Regions from separate parts of the Homo sapiens genome. Here region 1 is linked to region 2. Evidence: fine-mapped expression QTL. A gene starts in region 2. The other region holds a variant in brackets. All regions are shown on one strand. Distances are from middle to middle. Region 1 overlaps STK40 (serine/threonine kinase 40). Region 2 holds the start of STK40 (serine/threonine kinase 40).

Region 1 (3,004 bases), 44 kb after region 2:
CTCTCTGGGGCCAGCCTGACCTGTCTGCCTCCCTGCAGGCAGTCCCTGTCATCTCTGAGTGGGCCTTTGCAAGTGGTTCCTGACATTGATGACCAAATGAGCAATGCGGATAGCTCCCAGGAGGTGAGTTGGGGAGGGCAGATGGGCCATTACCCAGCCCCAAGGGACAGGCTTCTGGGGGCAGGCAGGGCAAGGGCAGAGGTGGCAGCTACCCGCAGGCCACAGAGTTTCCTTGGTCTTCTTCCCCAGCCTTGGGGTGGGAAAGGGAGACTTCAGTCCTCAGCCTGAGCTGCCTGGGGCCTGCCTTGGGCTTGGTGTAGCTGGAGATCTTTGGCCAGAGAGACCTGTGAGACAGCCGAGCTGGAGCCAGTGCCCAAGTGGCCCAGGCCAGCCCTCTCAGCTTCCTCCTGCTGCCCAAGTCACATTTCTCTGCCCCCTGACTCAGAGTTCTCTCTCACCCTTCCTGCTTTTCATTTTTCAGATGATTCATTTCTCCCTATTTCTTTCCTCCCCATTCCCTGCACTGGAGAAAGTGTTGGGCCTAGGGTGGGGGCAGAGACTTGGGCACCAGGCAGCAGAGGGCAGGTGATCTTAGGGTGCCCCCTGGAGGGCAGGGCTTGGCCGAGCAACAGCATTGCTGGGCCCTGGATATTGGAAGGACCTTCCCTCCCTGGCCCACCTTGGAGCTCCACAGTGAGCAGTGTGCAGGTAGGACCAGGAGGGGCCGTGCCTGGGAGAGCCTCCCAGAGCCTCCTGGCCCCCGAGGAAAGAGAGTTCCAATCCCTACCCACCTCCAGCTTCCACCCTTTAGCTGTTTGGCTAAAATCATCATCACTAGCCCGCAGTGAGTGCCTACCCCGAGGGCACCTCATTCAGCCCTCACTGCGGGCCTGCGTGGCCTGTGTTCTTAGCCCCATGTTACAGAAGAGGAAACAGGGTTAGAGAGGACTTTCCCAAAGCCACACAGCTTAGAAGTAGTGGAGCTAAGCCTTGAACCCAAGTCTCATCCGGAAGCCCTGCTGTCTCCTGTGGTGACTGGCACGGGGACACCACTTCAGCTTCTGTTACCATCTGCCTAGACCATCCCAGGGAGCTCAGCATGGGGCCCTGCGTATGTGGCTCCTCCAGGTGCTGCGCCCCCAGCCCAGGGCTTGCTCGTACCTCTTGACGTGCATTAGCCGCCTCAGGGCTCAGAGAACCTTTGCGAGGGGCCAGACAGCTAAGGCTTCTGAGGTAAAGTGACCTCTCACGCAGCCAGTGAGTTAGGAAGCATGAGTCTGCGTCAGTCCCGGGTCCGCAGGGCGGCCTGCAAGGGGAGTTGAGGTTGGCTGGAGGGGGTCAGGGACCCACCCTCAGCGCCACTCCCACCCCCGGCCTTGAGGCCTGAGGGTGTGGTGCCTGGAAGGGTGACTGCAGGAGCCAGGCTGCCAGCACTCTTGCCTGCCCTCCTGTCTGCTGCGCTGCCTTCATCTGGGTTTATCTTTGTCTCCTTCCCACCCTCCCCGCCTCAAAGGCGAAGGTGACGGAGGAGTGCTCCCAGTACGAGTTTGAGAACTACATGCGTCAGCAGCTGCTGCTGGCCGAGGAGAAGAGCTCCATCCATGAC[G/A]CCCGGAGCTGGGTACCCAAGCGGCAGTTCGGCAGCGCACCACCGGTGCGACGGCTGGGCCACGACGCACAGCCCATGACCTCCTTGGACACGGCCATCCTGGCGCAGCGCTACCTGCGGAAATAACAGCCTCAGCCGGGGCCACCAGCACTGCTGCCACTTCTTCCAGCCCCAGCCAAAGGCGTGGCTGTCAGGGCTGGGCCCTGTAGTGCTGGACTCTCCCGGGCCACAATAGGGACAGGGCAGGGACAGGGACAGCCCAGGTCACACGTGGGGTCAGCAGAGGTACCACGAAGCTACCTTTTGGGATGATTGCTCGATTGTTTGGTTTTTAAATCTGAGAAGCCTAGATAACTAATCTGCTTTTAATCACGATGTTTTAATCTACCTCTGTCTCTTTAACCATGCTGTCTCTGGACTGAGCAAGAGGGAGGAGGGAGCCTGCTCACCCCACTCCAGGGCCTTCCCCAGCGGCCACCAACTGACCTGGGGCGCTGCTCCCCACAGTCCAAATAAGCTGAAAGTGCAGCTCGCTGCAGGCCCCAGAGCGAGCTTCCCCTCCTCCCTGCTCTCCCAGGCCCCTGCCACAGCCTCTTTCCGTCCCTCTCTTTCTGATCCAGGCCCCTCAGTCCAAGCTTTGGAAAACCTTCACCTCATCTTAAACCGAACTCAAATATATTTATTTTTTTACCATACCAACTTCTCTCCCATCTCTAGGTGGCTCAGTCCATGGCCACTCCCTGCCCCCAGCCTGGCTGGACAGCAAGGAATCCACAGCCCACACGTGAGCTCCCTCCTCACCCCCAGGCAGGGAAGCCCCTCCTGCCAGTCCCTGTCCCCTTTCAGCCCACCAGTCCCTCTCTGCTGCCGGTGATGGGAGGCCTTTCTAGACCTGGCTCTTTCTCTCCCGTCTCAGTGGCTTCTCTGAGGTGCTGTACACGCGCGTTAACCTGTTCCCTTCTCTATCCTTCCCCGTGGTACTGAGCTCACGTGGACTCCCAGTGCGAAGGGGCCCATGGGTTGGGCTGCAGGCCTGGCCGTGAGCGGGGGCTGCCTGCACGCTCCCCTAGCCTACTCTTGTGTTTAGGGGATGGTGGGAACATATCCCAGTGCCCTTGCCTCATAATAGATGTGGTGACTCTCCCGGTAGACCCTAGCAAGGGTCCTCCATGGTGGTGAGGGACTCAGGAGAATTGTAGGGATTGGGGGACCCTGCCTGCCTGGCTTGAGAACAGCCCTGCTGCCCTTTTGAGCCGAGATTTTGAAGTGGATGCCCGTCTTGCCAGAAATGCTGTTCTCACCAGAATGCCCCCTCCCCTTGCCCTTACTGGACTTGGCCCTGCCTGATGCCAAGCAAAGACCCTTCCCCAGAGGCCTACCCCCCATATGTCCTCAGAG
Region 2 (2,705 bases):
AAAAAGCTGTTTCTATAACTCCGAGTCCTCACAGTGATCCCCCAAGCGTTATCCCTGTTTGGACAGAAGGGGAAGATTGGGCAATTTGCACATAGTCACCCAGCTTGTAAGTGATGCAGCAGGGATTCAAAGCCAAGTTTTTTGGAATCCATCAGACTTGATTTGAATCCTAGCCCTGCCATTATTAGCTGTGTGTGTTTGGGCACATTAATTTCCTTCTCTGAGCACTGGCTTCCTCAGCTGTAAACAGCCTCCTACCTAATACTGTCTCAAGTGCTCCATGCAGAGTGTGGCACAACGGTGGGAGCTGTCCTGATTACTCTTGTTAGTCAGCCCTATCAGCAGCTCAGTGGGCACCAGGCATTCAGAGACAAAGGACACAGGTAGAGGCAGCCAGACTTCACTCATATCAGCTCTTGTGTCCTGGCACTGCCTATGTGGAGATGACAAATGCACATACACACAAGTGGCCACACACCCTAGGAAAACCCAGCAGTGCACACAAGCTTAGACACGTGTGCCCACACATGGATATAGAGTGACCCAGGGGACAGCTGGAAAGACAGCCAAGAGTTAGACATCATAAGCAGCAAACACCCTGACTCACACCTCTGGGACAAGGGAGTGGGGCTACGGCCGCTGGTGCTGCTGCCACTGAGCCCTTCTAGCTGCTTCTGCATGCCAAGGGAGGGAAGCCAGGCTCTTAGAGGGCCCCAGTGAGTCACTTGCCTGATGCAATCCCTTTAAAGGGCTCATCTGCTGGTGCAAGAAGCTGATTCATGGAGGGCGTGGTTGCTGGAGGAGGAGGAGAAAGGGACCGAAACTGCAGCAGGAGGAACTGAGGTTAGATAGCTGTAGTCGCTAATAGGAACGCTTCACTGTAAACCTCCCTGGTCAAGGCTTCAGGGATCTCCAGGTTGAAGGTTGCCATCCTCGGGGTTTCTACAAAGGCGACAGACCTAGAGGGAAATGAATTATGAGCGCTGCGACAGGAATTTCTGTCTTTTATTGAGCCTAACTGCAGGGCTTTCCTCACAGAGTTCCACAAACCGGGAAATGAGGATCAAGGATGAGTCACTTTTCTGATAAATACACTACAATTGGCCGATCTTCCAACCGCTGGGGACTTCAACCTCGGCAGGGGGAGTGTAGGGCCCGCGAGGTTCTGTGGGGTCGGGCGGGGCGGTGCCTCCGTCCCAGCCTCGCCGCAGATATAGATCAGCAGTAAGTACCGCCCCATTAGAGCCTCGGCCTCCAATCGTGTAACAGGTTTCGCCCAGACCCCACCCTGAACCAATCCTCAATCGGACTCTGGCCTCTTGCCTGAAGTCTTCCGCCCATCGTCAAGATGGCGCCCCAATCCGAAAGCCGTGGGGCTGGAGACGCAGGCGGAGGGCGGGGCCCGGGGGGGCGGGGCCGCGGCTAAGGCTGGGGAGGAGGGGGGCGGTGCGTCACTTCCGTTGTCAGGTGGCGGCGCCGCAGCCATGGAGGGAGGCGGCGGCGGCGGCGGCGGCGGCTCGGGTGGCTGCGCTGGGAGGCGGCGGTGAGAGGCTCGCACGCCTCCAGCCCGGCCCCGGCCCCCCGGGAGGGAGAGCCGAGCAGCCCCGGCTCTGGGCTACGGACTATGGGCGAATAGCTCTGACCACCCGGCGAAGGTGAGGGCAGGGGTCCAGGAGCGGGGAGCCGGGTGGGGGTTGCGGGTAGGCGGGGCGGGCCCCGGCGGCCGCGGCGGTGGAATCGGAGTGACAGCCTGAAGCCATCTGAGTGCAGCAGAAATGGCCCCGGCGAATGCCCCCTCCTCCGCTGGGGCTCTGCCCTTCCCCGGCGGCAGGGGCGAGGGCTGCCTCGCGCCGGGTACCGGGAGGCCGCGGGAGCTTCAGTCCCCGCCGCAGCTCTGGGAAGTGGGCACTGCCAGCTTTGCCTAGAGTCACCCAGCCAGTGAGTGAAGCAACCGGCGTGTGAATCCAGCCAGATCTTTCCAAAAAGACACCTTCTGCCTCTCCGTGTTTCCCTCCTAATCCCGAGGGTGACTTGATAGTTAGAACGAGTCCCCAGGGAGGGCCAGCCAGGGCTTCCTCCAAGAGCCCTCACTCTGGCACGGGCGCTACCGCTGCTGGGGAATTTTCATATCCCGGGCGGCGTTCAGGTACGAGTCACAGCTACCTGCTTGCCAAGGCCACGTTTGGCCGGCCTTTTCCAAGGAGAGCTTGCTGTGGTCAGTGTTTCACCTGCCGAGCCGGTCAGGCCCGCCCATTCCCACGCCACTTGGCCCCGCCTTCCAGCCAGTTAGGTAGGGACATTCGGATTCCTGATGCCGAGTTTTCTGCCCACCCCAATCCCCAGGTTTGAAGCCCTTTTGTTAGCGGAAGGAAGAGATGACAGCCGCCCTCTGTGTGGCAGGATAGACTTTGCTCTGTTTTAAGTCACTGGAGGAAACCGGTTGGCTTTGCTTTGGTTTTGAGAACCAGTGGGGAAGAGGGTAGGCATACTGGGCTGGGCGCCTTTCCCTCTTTGAGTAGTTTTGCGTGAGATAAGGAAGAGCAGAATGTGTAATTGTAGGGCCAAAATAATCTTGTTTGTAAACAGTGCCTGTGAGCTCCTTTAGTGCTTCCTAATGGCCGTGCTGTGCAAGTTGTTGGTTGGGTTAATCTAGACAGTCCTCATTCATTCATTCATTCATTTCTCACATGACCACAACAAGAGTC

What was found. PIP is the estimated chance that this variant, and not a neighbour inherited with it, causes the effect.
Region 1: its variant is fine-mapped to the expression of STK40 in whole blood (TOPMed, PIP above 0.99).

Annotation. Positions count from the first base shown.
Region 1 is chr1:36,340,483-36,343,486 of GRCh38, reverse strand. STK40 (serine/threonine kinase 40) reads left to right here. Exons shown (of 11, transcript NM_001282547.2): 10 at 39-123; 11 at 1,514-3,004. The coding sequence ends at 1,732. Among named protein-coding and RNA genes, the nearest start is that of EVA1B, 18 kb to the right of the region's middle. The variant G/A (reference allele first, on the strand shown) is at 1,607.
Region 2 is chr1:36,384,673-36,387,377 of GRCh38, reverse strand. STK40 (serine/threonine kinase 40) reads left to right here and starts at 1,454. Exons shown (of 11, transcript NM_001282547.2): 1 at 1,454-1,655. LOC124904012 (a long non-coding RNA gene) reads right to left here and starts at 1,187. Exons shown (of 2, transcript XR_007065779.1): 1 at 1,051-1,187; 2 at 1-959. RefSeq lists enhancers at 607-976, 1,007-1,116, 1-1,140 and silencers at 1,347-1,726, 1,877-1,946, 2,247-2,296.